Linked DNA regions of Homo sapiens: region 1 is linked to region 2. Evidence: fine-mapped expression QTL. Tissue or cell type: whole blood. Region 2 holds a variant in brackets; the other region holds the start of a gene. All regions are shown on one strand. Distances are between the middles of the regions. Region 1 holds the start of ZNF438 (zinc finger protein 438). Region 2 overlaps ZNF438 (zinc finger protein 438).

Evidence for each region. PIP is the estimated chance that this variant, and not a neighbour inherited with it, causes the effect.
Region 1: it holds the start of ZNF438, and the variant in region 2 is fine-mapped to the expression of ZNF438 in whole blood (TOPMed, PIP above 0.99). The same link has a PIP of 0.9 or more in blood mononuclear cells.

The regions. Positions count from the first base shown.
Region 1 is chr10:31,025,974-31,037,116 of GRCh38, reverse strand. ZNF438 (zinc finger protein 438) reads left to right here and starts at 5,252. Exons shown (of 7, transcript NM_001143768.2): 1 at 5,252-5,284. It overlaps LOC105376481 (a long non-coding RNA gene), which reads right to left and starts at 4,609. Exons shown (of 3, transcript XR_001747410.3): 1 at 1,816-4,609. RefSeq lists a silencer at 5,031-5,590.
Region 2 is chr10:30,994,846-31,005,988 of GRCh38, reverse strand. All of the region lies in intron 1 of ZNF438 (zinc finger protein 438), which reads left to right. Among named protein-coding and RNA genes, the nearest start is that of ZNF438, 31 kb to the left of the region's middle. The variant C/T (reference allele first, on the strand shown) is at 4,818.

The DNA.
Region 1 (11,143 bases), 31 kb before region 2:
CATTCTGCCTGTCTGCTATGATGTCTTGATGTAGTTGGCGAGGTTTTTTTCCCTTGAGGAATTAAAAATCTTTTTTTTTTTTTTTTTGAGACAAAGTGTCACTCTGTCACCCAGGCTGGAGTGCAGTGGCATAATTATGGCTCACTGCAACTTCAACCTTCCTAGGTTCAAGTGATCCTCCTGCCTCCACCTTCCAAGTAACTGGAACCACAGGTGCACACCATCATGCCCGGCTAATTTTTGTATTTTTTGTAGAGATGGGGTTTGCCCAGGCTGGTCTTGAACTCCCGGTCTCAAGCTATCTGCCTGCCTAGGACTCTCAAAGTGCTGGGATTACAGGCATGATCACCGTGCCTGGCCAGAAATCTTTTTGGTATCTTTTCTCCTGTACCTTCTTCCCTGTTCTCCAATCCCAATACACGCACAAGGACAGTTTGGTTCTTTCCGTTTTACAGTCAGAAGCATGCTCCAGGCCCTGTACTCAAATCAAGAACTGGGCTTCTCAGAACAAGGACACAGGTTCCTTGTCTTTCCATTTCCCTCCTCGCTTCCCTCCACCCCTTCTTGTTGGGGACAGCCTTTGTCTAACATCCTTTGTTTAAGAGAATTAATTGCTATCCCCCAGTGGCTGTCAGTGTCTTTCAGGAGACCTCATGTAAATAAGGCTCCAGGTGGCCTGCTCTGATTTCCGAGTTACCAGAGGGATAACATCCTGTTAGGACATTCATCAAGGATAACATTTAGTGAGGCCCAGAGCAGTGACTCATGCCTGTAATCCCAGCACTCTGGGAGGCCCAGGCGAGAGGATTGCTTGAGGCTAGGAGTTCGAGACCAGTCTGGGAAACACAGCCAGATGTCATCTCTATGAAAAGTAAAAATAACCAGATGTGGTTGTGCATGCCTGCAGTCCCAGCTACTCAGGAGGTTGAGGTGGGAGAATCCCTTGAGCCTAGGAGTTCAAGGTTATAGTGAGCTATGGTCTTTCCATTGTACTCCAGCCTGGGCAAGAGCCTGTCTCAAAAATAAATAAGTAATATTTAGTAAGTCTAACCCCATTTGAGGCTTGCAGAAGTTACTGGACTTGCCATAAAGTACCCAGTTAATAACAGAGCTGGCCCTGTTCAGTGCTTTACTATGTTATGCTGCATTGCCATTCAAAATGACTTGTCTCCTAAAGGAATTTTCTCATCAGAATTATTTCTATTGACAGTATCCCCTTTTTAGAAAATAACTAGCATCTTGAGTAAGAAAGCTACCCAGTCTTTGAATTCGAGTTCATCCATCCATTCACCACGCATTCCTCTACACATATTAACTGATAATCTATTTGGGATACTACATGTAGAGGATTCGAGGTTAAGACTCACATTTCCCCTATTCTCACAGAGCTTACAGTCTAGGAGAAGAAGCAATTAAAATAATTTGCAATGCAGAGAGCCAAAGCTGCTTAGGGAAGGCTTCTCAGAGTCAGTTCCTGCAAAGTAGAGACCTAAAGGATTGGGGAGAATTAGCTAAGTAAAATGATGAGGGAAGGGAGGTGATAAAATGAGATGAAATACTGTGCAAACTGTGTAACTGCAGACTTGTAAGACTGTTATTAAACAGACATCCCTCCAGAGCTCTCCAATCTCTGTCCCAGGTCTTCTTCCAGCAAAGTCTCTATCTCTGCTCCTTTGGCAGAATAAGCCCCCTTTTAACCTGTGTAACTCTTGTTTTATAGATGGTTATTTTGTTGTTATTAGTATATTCTTGGGTTTGAGTTGGAGACAAGGGCCTATCTCTAATCAGGAGTGACCTGATTTTTATGTCAATTACCTGGGAAGAGATCATCAAACCAGATCCTGGGACTTAAGAGAGGAATGTAAGGGGATTGCAGAATGGGATTTTGTTTCCCTTGGTCTTGATCCTGAAGGATAAATGATGCATGTTAGTTAGGCAAGGCGTGGTTATAATAGTGTTTTTCAAATTTTTTTTGATTGAAATCCATAGTATGAAATACATTTAACGTTGCAACCCAGAATACACACATGTGGCTGAAAGTTTCCCCTAATTTGTGTTGGGAAAAAAATACCCTTATTACATGTGATACAATCTGATATTTTGTATTTTGGATTCTGATTAGTGTTTTTCTGAGTAGCTACCCTTTAACCGATCACAAAATCAACTTACTGGGTCATGATGACCACCTTAAAAAATCAAATAAAAGCAGTCATGCAAAGATGGGATGGAAAACAGTGAAGAAGATACCCATACACTGTGGTCAGTATTTTAGAGCTAAGTCCATATTTTGGACTTCCTAAGTCCCTCTGTTTCTTGCATAATTTGTGCCTGGTTGTATGAAACTTGAGACAGATTAGTGGTTATGGCTGTGGGTTCTGAAGTATGAAGTCTGGAATCTTGACTGTGTTACTCAGCAGCTGTGTGACATGGGCACTTAACCTACTTACCTTGTGTTTAAAATGGGGATAGTAACAGTTCTTATCTAGTTGCAAGAATTCAAGGAAATAATGCAATGCTTGGCACAGAATCAATACTCAGGAAATATTAGGAATTATATTTCTTTCACTTTTATTTTCCCCATACATTAAGTACTCTGTTTTGTCTTAATTCAGCTTTTCTTAGCTTGCTAAGCAGGACCAAGGGAAGAGATGTGTGTATTGACATAGAGGGCTCTGGAAGCCAGATTGCTATGGGCAGCAGATATCAAAGAGAAAGAATCACAAGGGGGAACTGAAAGCCCAAGGGCCATAGTGGAGGGCCTCAGTGCTTCCAGTGCTAAACCTCCAAGGTCCAGGGTTTTATTTTCTTTAAAAAAGCAGATCCTCTCTTTAATAACAACACTTTTGGCCCTAGCTTCTCACTTCCTGTCTAGGTCAAATTCCAGTTTGTTACAGAAAGTTGACTGAACGTGAGTGGTATTTTCCCACAAATTTCTACTTGACATTCCTTGAGACTGTGATCCTTGCTTGGGTACCTTTACTGTTGGCCATCTTTTGTTCACTGCGTTTACTTTTTTCCTGCATCTAGCAAAACAACGACTTTTTTTTTTGAATACCTGAGATTTCAAGAGAAAGTATACTGAACAATACGATGAGAAGACTATATTCTACAATGCCATCTTTCAGAGGCAAAAGTATCTATAGTAAAAACATTTGATACATTTGGTGTATGCTTCTTACCCATTTCCACTCCAAAAAATAACAGATGACATGTACCTGTGAAACACTCCCATAAGGTATACCTAGAAACTCACTTAAAAAAATTACGATTTTTAGAAATGATATATATAAAACATTTTATAAGCATGTAAACTATTAACAATTTAAAGGTTTCTTAAAATTGTTTTGCAAGGAAAAACATAAATATCACTGTTTTAAAAATATGCAGGACTTTAAAAAATGTTAATTTTTCTATACCTCTGCTCTACAGAAAAACCTTATTGTTACAATTATGGTACAGCCTTTACAAATTTCTTTTACATCATTTGATAATAACTAATATTCAGATAAAATATACAAATATTTTTTCAAATCAGAACATTTAAAAACACTGACGTAGATTTTTCTGGAATAATAAACGTTTTTATTTTTAACCAGCTCAGATCTCGAATTAAAGCCTAATATTCCCATCATCACTCTTTCCTGTAAAAATAAGACAGCACTTTCAATGAGAGTGGAAATAAACCATTGTTTCAGGTTTTACTTACAACTGGAGCTGCCTTGCAAAATCCCTGCCCTGGCCATCTGCCGTGGTTCCAAATAAGTTTGTAAAAGTGAATCTTGCCATTTTCAATACTTCCTCCTTTGGGTCTATTTATTCCGAAGTCTGTTTTTCTCATTCTTTTAATTTTTTTCCCCCCAAGACGGATTTGTCTGAGACACTTTTTTGCCATAACATTTGTTTTTTCTGCTTACGAGAGTGTAAGAATTCCACAAGCCAAATGTTAATATTTTGTTGTCAGTTCTTTAAGCCTTCATTTTTTCCGTCTATCGAGCCCTTTTTTTTAACCAGAACTCATTGCTTCTGAGAGTATAAAAGAGCAAAGAGGCCGGGCGCGGCGGCTCACACCTGTAATCCCAGCACCTTGAGAGGCCGAGGCGGGCGGATCACGAGGTCAAGAGATGGAGACCATCCTGGCCAACATGGTGAAACCCTGTCTCTACTAAAACATAAAAATTAGCCGGCTGTGGTGGCGCGCGCCTGTAATCCCAGCTACTCAGGAGGCTGAGGCAAGAAAATCGTTTGAACCCGGGAGGCAGGGGGTACTGTGAGTTGAGATCGCGCCACTGCACTCCAGCCTGGGAGACAGAGAAACACTCTGTCTCAAAAAAAAAAAAAAAAAAAAGTGGGGAGCAGAGAGCCGGACTTGGACACGGGAAGGTATCGTGACATGAGTGGGTCGGGGGCTGGAAAGTTTGCCCAGGCGAAGAAGTGAACATGTTTATCCGGATCACCGTTTGTTAAATGAACAGCAACCCATAGGTAGCTTCACCGAGCCGAAACGGGAAAGGCGGCAGGCAAGGGAGAAGCTAAAATCTGCAAGAAACGGGCTGGGCTGGAGGCGGCGCCAGGGCAAGAAGGGCAGGTGGGGGCCCGCGGGAGCCGGGAGCCAGGGGCGGGAGCCGGAAGGGCGGGACCCAGGGGCAAGGCCTAAGTGGGCGTGGGAGGGGCATAGTCAAGAGATGGGCGGGGACTGCTCGGGGTCTGGGCGGAGTCTAGCGGGAGCCGCGTCGAGCCGGGGAGGAGCGAGGGACCCTGGGAGAGCTGTCTTTTCAGGGCTGAGGACCCGCCAGCACCTGATGGAGAGCAAATGGCTGTTTCCACACGTGGAGAACTTTTAACGAACACGTGAGGAAGGCGGGCAATGTCTGTGGAAAAACTACCTCACAACCCAGGCGTCTTACTCCAGCCCCCAGGGCGACAGCTTGTTTACAGTATTTCTGAAGGTCTCCGTCCCCTTTTGTCGGCCCCTCCTCCTCCTCTAACCCCGACTTCAGGCTTTGAGTGAGGCTTTGGTAGAGCAGTCGCCGCCGCAGGCGCCCCGGTCGGCGAAGCCCACAGGCATGCGGGCGCAGAGGCCGTCTGCGCCTGCGCGGGGTGTCTGCTACGGGGAGGTGCGTGGAGCTCGAGGGCGTGGAGCTCGGGGGCGTGTCTCCCGCCGCGGCGCCGGGGCGGGGCGAGGGCGGAGCCTGGGGGCCCAGCGGCCCGCGCCCCGTGGCTTGACCTCCCCGACTGCTGGGCCCGTGACGTCACCCCGCTGTGACGCGCACGCTGTAGGAAAACTGTAAGTTTACGAGGATTCCTGCAGCTCCTAGGGCTTGCGGGGCCCGCTGGCAGCTGGCAGTCCCGGCGGTGGTGGTGGCTCTGGGGGCGTCAGTTCCTTGGGGAGTCGCCGATTGTGGCGAAGGGACAGGTGTCTGCTCAGAGTGGCAGCGCGCCCTGCTGGGCGGTAGGGACCTGGGGTGCGGGAGGCGAGGCCGCGCCCCGTGGGGCCGGGCCAGCACCTTTTCCCCTGGGGCGGGGCGCGTCTCCGAGCCTGGGAGCGAGGCCTTAGAAGGGGCGGAAAGTCCAAATGGAGAGTCCCTTTTTTTCTTCCGTGATAAAGGGACTTAGATTCCTTTTCTTCCCCCTCTCAGCCTTGGAGTTTGACATGTTAAGTAGGGGATGGAAGCTTCCTCTCAGAGAATAGGAATCCTATGTCCTGGCCGTTGGGATCCCACAAGTGACCAAGTCATCGTGGACACATTTATAAGATAACCAGTTGCTGCCTCAGTTTTCTTTTTTGTGTAAAAGGGAGGTACAGCAGCCTCTGGCCTCCCTAATGGTTGTTCCCACAGCACTAGGAACACGTGAGATAACACAAGTGTGTAAATTTGCTAGGAGAAAGCTTATACACAGACACTTGGTTATTCTGAGGAATGTGGTAGCCACTGGCTATTTGACCAGGAATCTTGTAGAAGGGGAACTTTTTCACTGTTTTGCCTCCCCCCGACAACCTTCCCTCCATCTGATTCTATACCACACTGGAGCCTGTTGGGTGATCGAACTGTTGTCACTAAACTTGATAGAATGGGGATCCCAAGAAATAACAGGTATCGTTAGCACGGTACTCTTGGCAATTACAATGCCCCCGTTGTCTGGGTTTTGCAGAGGAAGCTTTCAGTGTGCTGGAACTAGCACATTATAGACAACACAGACTCACTGAGTTTTAAGGATTGCTGTATCGATTTGGAATATCCAATCATCGTATCTGACTGCTTGAATATTTTGGTCAAGGGGTACTACATTATCGATTAGTTATTACTAGACTATAATGCCTCTCAAACTCCGGGACTAGTAGTCTTCAGGAACTTTGAAGGGAAGAATACTGTGCACACTTCAGGGTGTATTTATACAGGAGCTCGAGAGTTCACATTTCTGTAAATTCATTTCAGGAGTGTGATATCTTTTCATCCAGGTAGGAAGAGCCTTTGAATCAGAAAGCAGGGCTTCTAATTTTTGTTCTATTCGTTAACTAGCTTCGTGTCCAAGGACAAGTCACGCAAACTTGGAACTTTGTTTTTCTTATCTAAAATGAGAGCCGATGGTTTATCTGTTTGTTGGTTTTTCCAGGATCAAATGAGATCACGAGAGTGCAAATGAAAGGCTAAGTGTGCTATTGTTATTAGGAGATTCGCATTGGTCCCCTAGCCTGGATGAGATGTGAGTCAGAAATCTCTGGAAATAGAGCAGCAAAGAAGACAGCCTCCAACCTAGCAGGGCTCATATTGCAGTGGGAAATAGACAACGAACAATACGTGCATAATGTAATTTCAGGTAGTCATAAGTGCAGTGAAGGGAAGGAAGAAAGGAGGACAGTGGGGGAACAGGGAAGGTTGTTTTTGGTGGGATCTGTCAGGAAAAGCCATTCAAAGGCAGGGACACTTGAAGTGTGAGGGAAAGAGCCTGAGGTAAGAACATTTCAGAGAGGAATAATTAATAGCAATGAACACTTAAAAAAAGTAGAGCTTACCATATGTAAGGCACTATTCTGAACACTAAATTAAATTTTTACAAGTCTTTTGATGTAACCTAGTATCTCCCTTTCATAGATGAGGCAACTGACACACAGAAAGGTTAAGAATTTGCCAAAGTTGCACAGCTAAAACGTGGTAGAGACTATTTGAACGTGGGCAGTCTGACTTCAGAGTCCAGGCTCCAGGTGACTGTATTTTCGGCCTCACAGCAGGAACAGCACAGGACAATGCTCTGAGGTGGTCCAGACACAGTGAGAGTGTTTAGAGCACAGCCGGGAACGGGGAAAGTAGTGGCCAATGATGGTCAAGGGCCAGGCAGGCCGTGGGGTCCCTTGTAGGCTGTGGTGAAGTAAAGATGTTGTTCTAACTGTGATGGAAAACCATTGGAAGGTTTGCATCAAGGGACTGGTGTCTGATTTAAGTTTTATTGTATGGAGAATTAACTGTAGATTAGAGTGGGTCGGATGGAGTGAAAATCGGGAGAAAGCTGCTGTGCCCTGCAGGTGAAATGATGGTGGTTTGGGCTGGGGGAGGTTAGTTGTGGAGATGATGGTAGGCGGTAGAATTGGTGATACGTTTTGAAGGTAGAGCTGACGGGAAACGAGCTGATGTGGAATTTGAAGAAAAGGGAGAAGTGATGATTTTTTAGGTTTAGGCTGGAACAACTAGAAGTATAGTGGTGCTGTTTACTGAGGAAAATTACAAATTTAGTTTTGCACAAGTTCTAAATGCCTGTTAGACATAGTCATAACAACAGTGCTAGTAAAAATAGTATTATGTAAGCGTAAACTGAGTCCCAGGCAGGGTTTTAAGTACTTTAACCTATATTAATTCATTTAATCATCATAAGAATTATATGTGCAAGGAACCATTATTGTCCCCATTTTACAGCACGAGAAAATAGAGGCAAAAAGAGGTTATAAGTGACTTGTCTGAAGTCACCCAGCTGGTGAGTGATGTAGCTAGGATTCAAACCTAAGCATTGTGGCTTTGGAGTCCATGCATTGAATCCCTGTAACCACCTCCGAGTGAACATGTTGAGTATGCATGCCTGTGAATATGGAACTCAGGGGAGTGGTCAGGGTTGGAGATACCCATTTATTTTTCTGAAGAGAAAGCATGCTTTTGTTTTTCATCTAAGCTTTGGTTGTCTGTGGGAGAAAGATTATAGGCAGTGGGACTGTGCTAACTGGTCTTTGATTACGACCTGACTGGGTTCATGCAGCCAGTATCTGGTATTCCCCACTGTAGGTTCCGTAGGGGCAAGGTCTGTCTCTTTGACTTCTCTATCTCTAGTCCCTAATCCAGTGCCTGCTGTGTAGTAGATGTTAGGGATGACTTTATATAATGGGCATTTGGTTAGGTTTTGGAAGTTCAGAGATGAATAAAACAGTTCTTTACCTTAGAGGAGCAGGGTATGAGGAAAAACCTGTGGGAATAAAATTAGAGTAGACTAAATGCATAAATACATGCCGATTAGTTCATTTGGGTTTTCTGCACCCTCCCCTCCCCAGCTTCCATGACTTGTGAGATGGGGCATGAAAAGGGCAAAGGGGCAAAAGAATGCCTAAGCTGTTGCAGGATGAAGTTGAGGCTCCCCAAGAGTCCTTTTCAACAAAAGAATTACTCAAAATCATGCATATTTTACTATATTTGCATTAGCTTTATTTGGCAATGATAGAATTTTTACCAAATGAAATAAATTCTGATATTTGACTGTCCTTTTGAAGTGATGAGTTTTTCCAGTTCTATTACCTCAGTGTTGACAGGGCTCACCAGAGAAATAAGGGAGTTGGCTTGAAATGTTGCAGCTTGCATAATAGAGGGTGATGGAGGGGTTGGGTGAAGTATTCAGGCAGGTTTCCACCGGTTTAAGTGTGTCATGCCAAAGTTCCACCTATTGGAATAAGTTTGAGTTTCTTTGCTGACCATCTCTAACATTGACATGTATTTTTTTTTTGTCATAGAAAGGGGATCTGGTGATATATATTGTAGGTGGAATTGCAGATTACATCTCGTATAGCTGGATCATTGTAGAACATGGAGACTAGAAAAATACAAACAAAAAAAGATGTGTCTTGTTCCCGTAGATCTTTCATGGCATACCATAACCTCAACAGTTGTCACAATTTTGTTACTTCCTAACATGAGTATTTCAAATTTAAACCATGTAAGAATTATATAAAATTGCACTGCCGTAGATTTTATGGTTAATTTCAGAATTTTTAAAAATATATAAAATTATATTTTGTTTTAAGCTTTCATTGGGAAAGTATCTAAATAACCAGATCTATGATTACTCTAAACAGAAGCCCTCTACTAACGTAAATGTAGAGGGGTGCCATCTCATTTTGCAGTTCACAACGTTTTAAATCTGCTCTTGTAGCTTCCCTACATTTAATGGAGTTGAAATGATTAGTCTTTATTTACACCACATTTGCAGTTAGTTTCCCAGGAACATCAGATACCCATATATGGTATAAAGTAAAATTGCATAGTCAATAGCCTATTGATGCTCAGGTGTTATTGACTTTTAAGTTCAGGCACAGTGAGGGCAGGTTGATGGTTATTTAATTGTGTCAGGTAGCTCCCAGCAGAGGGGGAGTGATGGTAAGTTCTATCTGAAAACAACAGGACCCTCTGTTTCTAACACTGACCATGCGAAATATAACATCCTAGATAGTAAATAAAATTCAGATTCCTTTTAAAATTTACATTTGCACAAGCAAATTTTAAACTATTTTATGAGTACTTTTATATATATGAAGATTTATTGTTGAAAACAGTGTGTCTAGCCCAGTGATAGTACATACTGAGCATTTAAATATAATTCTTTTTTTAATTAAATTTATTTTTTAAATTATACTTTAAGTTCTAGGGTACATGAGCACAACATGCAGGTTTGTTACATATGTATACATGTCCCATGTTGGTGTGCTGCACCCATTAACTCGTCATTTACATTAGGTATGTCTCCTAATGCTATCCCTTCCCCCTCCCCCGACCCCACGACAGGCACTGGTATGTGATGGTCCCCACCCTGTGTCCAAGTGTTCTCATTGTTCAATTCCCACCTGTGAGTGAGAACATGTGGTGTGTGGTTTTCTGTCCTTGTGAAAGTTTGCTCAGAATGATGGTTTCCAGCTTCATCCATGTCTCTACAAAGGACATGAACTCATCCTTTTTTTATGGCTGCATAGTATTCCATGGTGTATATGTGCCACATTTTCTTAATCCAGTCTATCATTGATGGACATTTGGGTTGGTTCCAAGTCTTTGCTATTGTGAATAGTGCCACAATAAACATACGTGTGCATGTCTCTTTATGGCAGCATGATTTATAGTCCTTTGGGTATATACCCAGTCATGGGATGGCTGGGCCAAATGGTATTTCTAGTTCTAGATCCTTGAGGAATCGCCACACTGTCTTCCACAGTGTTTGAACTAGTTTACAGTCCCACCAACAATGTAAAAGTGTTCCTATTTCTCCACATCCTCTCCAGCACCTGTTGTTTCCTGACTTTTTAATGATCGCCAATCTAACTGGTGTGAAATGGTATCTCATTGTGGTTTTGATTTGCATTTCTCTGATGGCCAGTGATGATGAGCATTTTTTCATGTGTCTGTTGGCTGCATAAATGTCTTCTTTTGAGAAGTGTCTGTTCATATCCTTTGCACACTTGTTGATGGGGTTGTTTGATTTTTTCTTGTAAATTTGTTTAAGTTCTTTGTAGATTGTGGATATTAGCCCTTTGTCAGATGGGTAGATTGCAAAAATTTTCTCCCATTCTGTAGGTTGCCTGTTCACTCTTTATGGTAGTTTCTTTTGCTGTGCAGAAGCTCTTTAGTTTAATTAGATCCCATTTGTCAGTTTTGGCTTTTGTTGCCATTGCTTTTGGTGTTTTAGACATGAAGTCCTTGCCCATGCCTATGTCCTGAATGGTATTGCCTAGGTTTTCTTCCAGGGTTTTTATGGTTTTAGGTCTAACATGTAAGTCTTTAATCCATCTTGAATTAATTTTGGTATAAAGTGTAAGGAAGGAATCCAGTTTCAGCTTTCTCAATATGGCTAGCCAGTTTTCCCAGCACCGTTTATTAAATAGGGAATCCTTTCCCCATTTCTTGTT
Region 2 (11,143 bases):
AATCTGTTAATAAGCTGAAGAGATTTAGGCTCAGAGAGATTAAGTAAGTTGTCCAAGGTCACAACATAATAAATGAAAGAGCTGATATTTTAACCCAGATCTGTTATTTATCATATATGCATATCTTTCACAATAACATGATCTTTCCCACAAATACCATTTGATCCTACTTAGGAAAAGTAAATAGGATGATGAGCATTGTTCAAATAGTAAATACCTATTTTTTTATTGTATATATTTAACGTATATGATGTTTTGATGTATACACACAGTGAAGTGGATACTACAGTCAAGCAAATTAACATCAGTCATCTCACATAGTTACTCTTTTTAGTGGCAGGAAAATCTCTTTTAGCAAAAATCTCAAATACAGTACAGTATTAACCATAGTCCTCATGTCATACATTAGACATCGAGACCCCTTTATCCTGCGTATCTGCAGCTTTGTATCCTTTGACCTACATCTTCACATTTTCTCCCCCGTCCACCCCTGTTTACCATCATTTTGTTCTCTAAGTATTCAACTTTCTTTTTCTTTTCTTTTTTTAAGATTCCACATATAAGTGAAATCATGCATTTTCTGTGTCTTGCCTATTTCACTCTGCATAATGTCTTCCACATTCATCCATGTGGTAGCAAATGGCAGGATCTCCTTTTTAAAGCTGAATAATATTCCATTTACGTACGTGCATGTACATATATATATACACACACACATATGTACACACACATAACTCACAGTTCATTCATCTGTTGACAGACACTTTGGTTGTTTCAATATCTTGGCTATTATTGTTTCTAAATCTTGGCTCATGCTACAGTGAACATGGGAGTGCAAGTATCTTTATGAGATGGTGATTTCATTTCCTTTGGATATCTACCCACTGGAGGAATTGCTGAGTCATATGGTAGTTGTATTTTTAATTTCCTTAGGAACCTCTGTATGGTTTTTCACAGTGGCCGCACTGATCTGCATTCCCACCAACAGTGTATGAGGTTTCTCTTTTTCACACCATCACCAACACTTGTTATCTCTGGTAACTTATTAAAGTAATAATCACATTTGCTTAATAATATCAAGAAATAGGCTATGTTATTATGAAACAGTTAAAAGCATATAGGAAGTTTATTTATTGATGTGGGAAAAGTATTTATGACTCATCATGACTTCCAGCCCCCTCCCCCACATTTCTACTTATCACTTCCTTTCTGTTACCAGTTCCTTCCTTATCCAGCCTAGATGCTTTGATTCAAATTATTTTCCGGCAAATTCTTTCAATTCCTTTGTACCTCTTTGGTCTCTCCAATCTCAGAACTGGATGAGCTCAACTACCTGCCAGTTTTTTCACTTTAATGATACGCTCAGCAGCCTTAAAATTGTCCAGCAGTCTTCCGACGTGTCTATTATCTCACTCCCTCACTCCTCACAGCATACTGCCTTCATTCTTCTCAAACCTTTTAACCCCCTATCAGTGTTATTTGATGTCTTAGCAGTTTTCCATGCAGTTGACCACAATTGACCATTGCTTCCTTTTGGAAACACTTGTCTCTTGGCCTTTGAGACAAACCCTTCCCTGGTTTTCCTTCTCCCATTCTAGTTGACCATTTTCTGTCTTCTGTGTTACCTGACATCTAAAAGAGGAAAGGTTTAGTTCTCTTGTTTTTCATCTTGTACTTTTGGTTAAATATAATCTTTTTGTGTAAGTCTTATTATCTCTAGCCCAGAGTTTGTCATCTTCAGCACTATTGACATTTTGGGCTGGAAAATTTTTTCAGTGTCAGGGGATGTCTTGTGGATTGTAGGATGCTTAGCAGCATCTCTGGCCTCTATGCTCTAACTGCCAATAGAGTTCCCTCTACCCTTATTGTGACAATCAAAATGTCTCCAGATATTGCCAGATGTCTCCTGGGTGCATAAAATCACCCCCCATTGAGAAGTACTTATGTAGCCTGAAGTTCTCTTCTGAGGATCTGGGGATAACACCTTTCTGACATCTCCACTTGAATGTCTCCTAGGCATTGCAAATTTAATGTGACCAAAATGGACTCTTGTTTTTTCTTCCATATATGCTCTCCCCCCAGATTTTCAGATTTTAGATTATTTATGATCTTGCATTGGAGGTACCAATAAAAGCCATTGGAGGCTTTTATTTGGAGTAAACTAGGGAGCCACCAGAGAGTTTTGGGCCAAGAAATGACATGATCTCACGTAGATCAGCTCTTTCTTGAGCATAGACTATGACTTGGAAGACTGAAAGCAGGAAGACCAGTTAAGAGGCTACTGTGGTAATCACAGTGAAAAATGGTAGTAGCTTGTATAAGGATGGTAGTAGGGCATATGATAAGGAGTGGCATCTTTAGTTTAGTGCTTAAACACAAATAGCCCTGAGAAGAATGCACTTGTACCTTCATGAGGTTAGTATCAGAGTATGCTTTGTTTTTCAGATGTTTTCTAAGAACTTGCAGGGAACAGGTTTTGGTGGGTCAGAATGAGAAGACAGTAGCCAAGTTCCTGGGTTCCTCCAAGCCAGAACTTCCTGGGATGTTACTTGAAGGGATTCAGGCCAGAACAGGGTTTTAAAACAAGGGACCCAACGGGAAGAGTAAGCAAGACATCCAATACTACCTGTTCTACCTCACAATCTTACTTAGGGCTGGTCCTCCCACGGTAAAACATGTACTGGGTGGCAGGGTAGATAGAACAATTGGAAGTCAGGAGTGTTTCCTTCATTAAATATAGGAAGCACATCATCTTGGGCTGGAAGGCCCTTAGCTGAAGTGAGGTGGCTATCGGCATTTGGGATGGGACAGGTTTTTGTTGTACAAGATTGCCCTACACATCTCAAGACTTGCAATAGTGTGCTCTCTCATTGTGACATCTAAAAAATGCCTCCCCACATTTCCAGACTCCCCATGGGAGTCAGACGTGTTCACCTGTATACCACTGGACTGAGCCCCCTTTGCTAATTTGAAAACTGCCTTCTGTAATAGGAAGTTAGTCAAAAGGCTATACATTCCAGGCCCTTAAAGAAAACCTGCATTACTTGTTTGGGGACTTAGAAGGTATCTACTAGTACTTTAAATTAGCATCTATGTTTATTGCTGATACATCCCATAAATGTTTTCTGTCCATGTTATGTACCTTAATATACTACTTTGTAATTCTTTTGTAGGGGTCATAGCCATTTCAGGGCCATCTCTAAAGACACTGCAAAGGACACATGCTCTAGCTGCTCTCTTCTCCGTATTGTTATATAAGGGAACCTGAATTAAAATGAATTAAGAGTTTGGATGAAAGGGCATTCCCTAGCCATCTTAGCAAAGGGAGTGGGAGTAGGATTGGAAGAGGGAGGATAATGGCCTGTATGTGAATGTTTATGCACATCATGTTTTTTAAATCAGGTCTAGCTAGTATCAAGAGCTAAATATTTTTTAATCGTATTTTTGAAAAGTAGTAGAAAATAGAACAATATTCAGATTTGTGAAGGATTGATGACTCAGTATTAGAGGGAAAACTCACCAAGGAAAAGATCTAATAGTTTTGAACATATAAAATGTAAGGTTTATTTACAATGAAAAAAATCACACAACACACTGGAGGAAATGCTTGTATCAAATGTGACTAAGGGTGAATATCTATAATATCTGAAGAGGAAGTTCTCTCGAACTTAATGAAGAAGTTTTAATACATAAGTAAACAAAGTATTTTAGCAGTTAATGATTAATAAAAAGGTGGGATTATGTTTACCGTCACTGGTAATCAAAGAAATGCCTTTTAAGTTAACCTTGAGTTATCTCTTCTATTCTTTCGAAAATACTGAAAATTAAAATAACTGACAATTCTGGAGAGGCTTTAAGGAAATGGACCCATTCAGTCTTATGTGTTTCTTGTGCTACTCCCAGCCACTGCCTTTCCCTGAACATGCTGTGCCATTTTAAATTCTTACGTCTCATCTTTATGAGTCCTTCCCCTCTTCTTTCTGTTGACTTTCCATCTCTTGAGAGCAGCATTCAGATCCTGGGGGCATCCCTTCTTACTCAGCCCTGCCAATGAGCACTCTGATTTGCATTCGGCACTGTATTGCAGCCATGGGTGTATGAATCAGTCCCTACCACTTGGCTGGGGAGTTCTTGAGGTTGGGACTGGTCAGGCCCTGCATCAGGGTCTGGTATACAAGTAATTATTCAATAACTATTGAACTAAATTATTGGATTTTGGTGAATGTTTTAATGAACTACAATATGTTAGGGTGATGGAATAACATGATCACTAAAGTGCAATTATAAGTGTAACTTATGGCAAAATTTTGTAACCAAATACAGAATGATATGTTTAGTGTAATTTCAACTGCATTAGAAAGGTAATATGCAGAAAATGAATTTTTAAATATTTTAAAGTTATAGGTAACAAACTTTTATTTCTTTATTACAATCTTTATGATACAATATATAATTTTTAAAATCAGTTGGCACACTTGACCTCCCTCTCTTCTCATCAGAATTAACCTCTCTGTGTCCTGTCCAATTATCTGATTGAACTCTCAGGAAATAGGGTGGGCCTCCCCAGAATGTGGGCTTTTAAGGATAGCTGCATTTATGTGACTGAATTAGGTCCCCAAGCATTTTTTGAGCTTTTACTGTGCCTGGGTGCATATAACTTGAAAGATATGGTACTTAGTATTTTATAGTTTGTAAATACATTCACATTATCAGCGATGAGTTCTACAGCTTTTAATAATGTCAAATATAAATGGTAGTTGTTTTTTTAAAACATTTTTTGAGTATCTACCATCTGCCAATGACTGAAATACAGAATT[C/T]CTTTAAGGAAGTCCTTGTCTGACAGGAAAGACAGACATCCATGGGCCTTTCATACAGCAAGATGAGTGTTGTAATCGTGTTGTAATGAGTGCAATGGGTTGTAGAGTGAATGGAGAAGCAGTTATTTCTTAAGAGGGCTGGTGAGATGAGATGACTGTTCTCTGGTAAGATAACTCTCGAACAGGACTTTAGAAGATGGGCAAGATTTTTGCAAGATGGATAGGAGAAAAGGGGAAAAGCATGAACAGAAAGGTAGAAGTGTAGAAATACATGATGTCTTCAGAAGCCACTAAAAGATTTTGGAGAGGGATATGACATGATTAGGTTTGTATTTGGAAAGAAAATTGAGATCAGTGATTATAACAAGGAAACACAAGAAAAGTTTTTTTTTTTTTTGCATGCTTTTCTATGTGACAATTTTGTGAGCATCCCCAGATTTTAAATTGTAACATAGATAGGACAGGCTTTACATTATGCACAGTTCTGGCCAGCCAACCATATGCCCTCTCATAGCTGTACATCAGAGTGTCCCTTCTAAAAGTCTGGGTGAACAGTGGGCTACAGGAATGAGGTCAGCTAAGAAGCCATTGCAGTGTTCCACATCACCACAGGAAGTGATGGCTTAATCAGGGCCATGATAACAGAAATGGATGGGAGGGAATATATTTGCCTATGTAGACTTGGTATCAGAGTTTTGTGGGGGTAGAGAGAAAAAGGAATTATACATCAGTGTTTCTCAGATTTTAATGTGCATGTGAATTGTCTAGGGATTTTGTTAAAAGGTAGATTTTGATTCAATAGGTCTGGCAGTGGGGCCTCAGATTCTGCTCCCAAGTGATGCCAACACTGTTAGGCCATGGTCCAGTGAATAATTAACAAGGACGAGATAACGTGGGTGTGAGACTCCGCTGGCTAGATGGTGATGTCATTATCTGAAATACCTGAAATGGGGAATACCAGAGAAAAGAAAGCTTGGGCAGGGGGATGGGGTGAAGTTTTTGTGGGACATTCAGGTATAAAAATTGTAGACAGCTGAAAGTTTGGATTCTAAGCTTGAGAGAAAAATCAAGCATAGAGACACAAATTTGGGAATAAGCATTTCGTTGCCGACATAAAAGTCATGAGAATGAGTGACATTACCTACAAAAAAGAGATAAAGTTAATATTAGAAAATATACCTATTCCTTCATCATTCAAAGGCCTCATCTTCTAAAAAGACAAATAAAGAAAATATACCTATTTGCTAAAATTTTAATGTCCATTTAAGTGACTATAAACCAGCAATGGGAAAGAAATTGGATAGGTAGCTTCCTCCCTATGAACAATCTCTAGGTGTAAATTGAGGGGAGGAGAAGTCTTCTTTGGAAACCCCCCCTTTTCCTTGGTAATGACCATAGATCAAGTTAAAAACGATTAAAGTATCTTATGAGAAATCATTCATATAAATAAATATGTGTAAAGAATCGTCAAAATGCCAGGCAGTCTTCTGACCTTAACATTAATAGCAAATGAAATGAATCCCTGAAACAGTGGAGCTTATGGGGGAGATTGACAAATGCTGTGTTAGGAAAGTATAGTGTCATGTGAGAGCACACACATCAGGAACACATGACTCAGTGTGGAGACAAGGGATGGCCTTCCTGAGGAAGTAGCATTAAGCTGAGACCAGAAGGCTGAGTGGTGGTGACCTACAAGAAGAAGAAGGGAAGGTCATAACAGTAATGACTTGGAGTGGAGAGGCCCTGCAGGTTGGAGAAGTTCAGTGTGGCTCACCATGGAGTGTCAGAGTGAGGGAGATGACTGCTGAGCTCCGAGAGGTGAACAGAGCCCCTGGTGAGGCCCACTCCTCTGGGACTTAGTAGAGAGAAGAGGGAGAAAATGATGTATTTTCCCAAGGAAAAACTGTTATTCTACTTTGGTATAGTTCAAACAACAGTCTTATGCATATGGTTTTACAAGGCTTTTATGGACTGGCCTAGTAATGACATGACTCATAGTAATGTTGTTTCTATAGGAAAAATGTTTTGGGCTTCAAAAGCTGTCTTACAATTTAACTTTCAGATTTTTTTTTTTCCATTTGGGAACCGCTTGGATAAGAGCACAATTCTAGTGTTTTTTGTTATTTCTGTTAAAAGTGTGCTTTCTCTGGTATGTATCTATGTGGCTACAGTGTTGATTTTCCGTCTTCTGATATGAATCAAAGCTATCATTGCACAGATGCAGTTGAAATGTTGTTTTATTTTCTTGACCAGATTCAGAAAGTGTATGGAAATAGAGAAATCTTTTTATAAATTGTTTAGTTTTCAAAGTGTTTGTTCTTCAAAGTTAAGGATTCCCTCTGTAAACTATATCATGGTATACTGTGTTATATACCATGAAAGTATGAAAAATGAAACTGCCATGAAAATTGTTATAAACAGAAAGTAAAAGAGATCGGTGTGTTTTCACTATTGAAGTCAAATAGAATGCAGAAGGTAAACAATAAAGGATAAAATACCTAGCTTTAAAAATACTTTAATAACCATGAGCTTATGATCATAATCGTCTTCATTACTAGCTATTGTTATCATTAGTAATACTTGATTTTTTTTTTTTTTTTTTTTTTTTTTTTTTTTTTTTTTTTTTTTTTTGAGACAGTCTCTCTCTGTCACCCAGGCTGGAGTGCAGGGGCGTGATCTCGGCTCACTGCAAGCTCCGCCTCTCGGGTTCACGCCATTCTCCTGCCTCAGCCTCCTGAGTAGCTGGGACTACAGGGGCCCGCCACCATGCCCGGCTAATTTTTTGTATTTTTCTTAGTAGAGACGGGGTTTCACTGTGTTAGCCAGGATGGTCTCAAACTCCTGACCTCATGATCCACCCGCCTCGGCCTCCCAAAGTGCTAGGATTACAGGCATGAGCCACTGCGCCCAGCCAATACTTGATATTTTAAAGCAAGAAACAGCAGCTGTTAAGGTCACTCCCTTTGTAAAATGGATCTATATGAGTTTCATTTTCTTTAATAAATGAAACTTTAGGCTGAAACTCTCAAATTCCCTTATCTCCAACATGCAAAGTTAATTTCATCCACATCTGTCTTGTGAAAGTATCTTTCTTTCTATATCAGTTAGAATGCTTTCAGCTGGTAAGTGACAGAGACCCAACTGAAAGTATCGTATGTAATAACTGCATTTTATTGTCTCATATAACTAGAAATCTGGAAGAAAGATAGTTTTTTTGTTGGCTTATATAGCAGCTAACTCTTATCATCAGACTCTCTGGCTCTGTCTTTTCATTCTACCATCCTGATAAGTTGGCTTTTGTCTTCAGACTTTTCCCCTCCTCATCTCAAGATGGCAGCTTTAACTCCAAGAATGACATACTCATATCAAAGCACCCATGACTGTAAGAAAAGAAGGTGTCTCTCTTATGTCTTTTTTTAAAATGAAGAAAACTTTCTTAGAAGCCTCCTAGAAAACATGACCTCATTAGCTAAAATTGCATCCTATACCCGTTTCTAAGCCAGTCAGTGGTGAGGGGTACGGAAGTCCTGTGTTTGGCTTAGACTAGTCAAGATTCATGGCCCTTCACTCCTCCCAAGGTAAAAAAAAAAAAAAAATAGGATTTTGTTATTCAGAAAGAAGGGAAGACTAGGTAGGCAACCACTAGTGTCTGCCGTATCTTCCAAGGCCAATTTATTTGCCTAGAGCTTTAATTCCTTTCTGCCTCTTAGAAGACTTTGTTAATAATTTCTTTTTGCGTTCATTTTCAGTCTTCTCATTCTTTTTCTTCAGGCTTATTGAAAGAAGAGTCTGCATATGCTGCCTTCATTTTTTTCCCCTCCCATTTATTCCTTAAATTCCTTGCAATCTGGATTTTGTTCCTCCTAATAAGAACCTTCCTTTCTATCAACAGCAATAACCACCTGATTCCCAAATCCTTTGCCAGTGTCTTTGTTTTCTGGATTTTCCATTCTCTGTTTCATTTGTTTGTACATTATTCTTTATTATTTCCTTCCGTCTGCTTGCTTAGGTTTAGTTTGCTTTTCTTTTTGTAGGTTCTGTCTTAAGGTGGAAGATTAGATTATCCACTTGAGATCTTTCTTTTTTAATATAGGCATTTATAGCTACAAATGTCTTTCTGGGTATTATTTTCTTTAGCTGTATCCAATAAATTTTGGTATGTTGAGTTTTAGTTCTCACTAATCTCAAGGTATTTTCTAATTTTCTCTCTGATTTCTTTGACCCATTGGTTATTTAGGAGTGTGGTTCCCTCCCATCTTTGTGAATTTCCTAAAATTCCTTCTGTTACTGATTTGTATTCTAATTGCATGCCATTGTTTCAGAGAACATTCTTTGTGTGATTAATCTCTTTAAATTATTGAAGGTTGTTTATGGCCTAGCATGTGGTCTCTTTTGGAAAATGTTTCATGTGCACTTAATAATGCATATTGCCTTGTTGAGTGGAGTGTTATATAGTTGTCTGTAGGTCTGGCTGTCTTACAGTGTTGTTCAAATCTTCTGTATTCTTGTTGATTTTCTTCCTGGTGGTTTTATCTAGTATTGAAAGAGGGAAGTCTCCAATTATTATTTTTCAATTGTGTATCCCTTCAACTGTCTTTTCTTCCTTCTCTTGTTAAGTGCATATATGCTTCTAATTGTTATACCTTCCTGATGGATTGACCCTTCTGTCATTATGAAGTGTTTCTCTTTATTTCTAGTATTATATTCTTGCTTTAAAATGTATTTTGCCTGATTCTTTTATGTTTACTGTTTGTATGGTATAGCTTTTACTTTCAACCTATTTGTATGATTGAACCTAAAATGTGTCTTCTGTAGATTTTATATAGTTGGGATCTTTGTTCTTTTTCTTTTATAAAAATACAGCCTGATAATCTTTCTTTTGATTAGATTGCTTCATCTGTTCACATTTAATGTGATTACTGATATAGTTGGATTTTTGTCTGCAGTTACGAATTTTGTTTTCTATAGGTCTCAGGTCTTTTTTGTTCTTTCCTTTCTTGCCTTCTTTTGAATTAAGTAGATATATTGTAGTGTGATGCTTTAATTCCTTTGCTACTTTTAAAAATATATATTTTGAGTTATTTTCTTAGTGGTTGCTCCAGGGTTTACAGTGTACATCCCGATTTATAAGAATTTCACTTCTGATTTATACTTACTTTCAGCAAAATAGACTTCCTCTGTTAGCTCCATTTCCTTCCCCAACTTTTTCTGCTATTATTGATGTACCTATTATGTCAAACCCAACAACACACTGTTGTAATTTTTACTTTATGTCTTTTGAAGAAGCTGAGACAAGGGAGAGCAAGTACGTATTTATAGTTAGTTGTATTGACCTCTCTATTTTTTATTTTCTTTACATATTTCTGCATATTTGAGTTAGCTCTGGGGTCATTTTCTTACTCCCGAAGAACTTTGTTCTCACCTGCTTCTTTTGTGCTGTTATTGTCTAAATGTATAGCAGTAAATGTTGTTAGCCCAATAATTAAATTATAGCTACAGTGTTTTATTGAATTATTCTTTAAATCAGTTAAGAGAAGAAAGGGGAAGAAATATGCAATTACAGTGTCTTTTGCAATAATGTACGTAATTTCCTTTACTGGCATGCTTTGTTTTTTGGGGCTTCCAATTACTGTTTGGTGTTACTTGCTTTTAGCCTGAAGAATTTCCTTTAGTATTTCTTGTGAAACAGATATTCTAGCAACAAATTTTCTGTCTTTATTTTTCTGGGGATGCCTTAATTTGACCTTTATTTTAAAAACACAGTATTGCTGGATATTAGAGTCATAATTCACAGTATTTTACTTTAGTACTTTGAATATTTAATTCCATTGCTTTCTGGCCTCCCTTGTTTCTAATGAGAAGTCAGCTGTTAATCGTATTGGGGGCTGCTTTGTACTTGTCTGGTCATTTTGCTCTTGCTGCTTTCAAGATTTTCTCCTTGTCTTTGGCTCTCAAGATTTTGCCTGTAATGTGTCTGGAAGTATATCTCTTTGTATTTATCCTATTTAGAATTTGTTGAGCTCCTTGGGGGATGTGTAGATTCATATTTCTTTTTCTTTTATCAAATTTGGAAAGATTTCAACCATTATTTATTTATTTTTTGTTCTTTTTCATTCATTTTTTTTTTTCCTCTCTCTGAGATAGGGTCTCACTCTCTCACCCAGGCTGGAGTATAGTGGCATGATCTCAGCTCACTGCAGGCTCTACCTCACTGCAGGCTTAAGCAGTCCTCCCACCTCAGCCTCCTGAGTAGCTGGAACTACAGGTGTGTTTCACCCTGCCTGGTTAATTTTTAATATTTTTTATAGAGACAGGGTCTCACCATG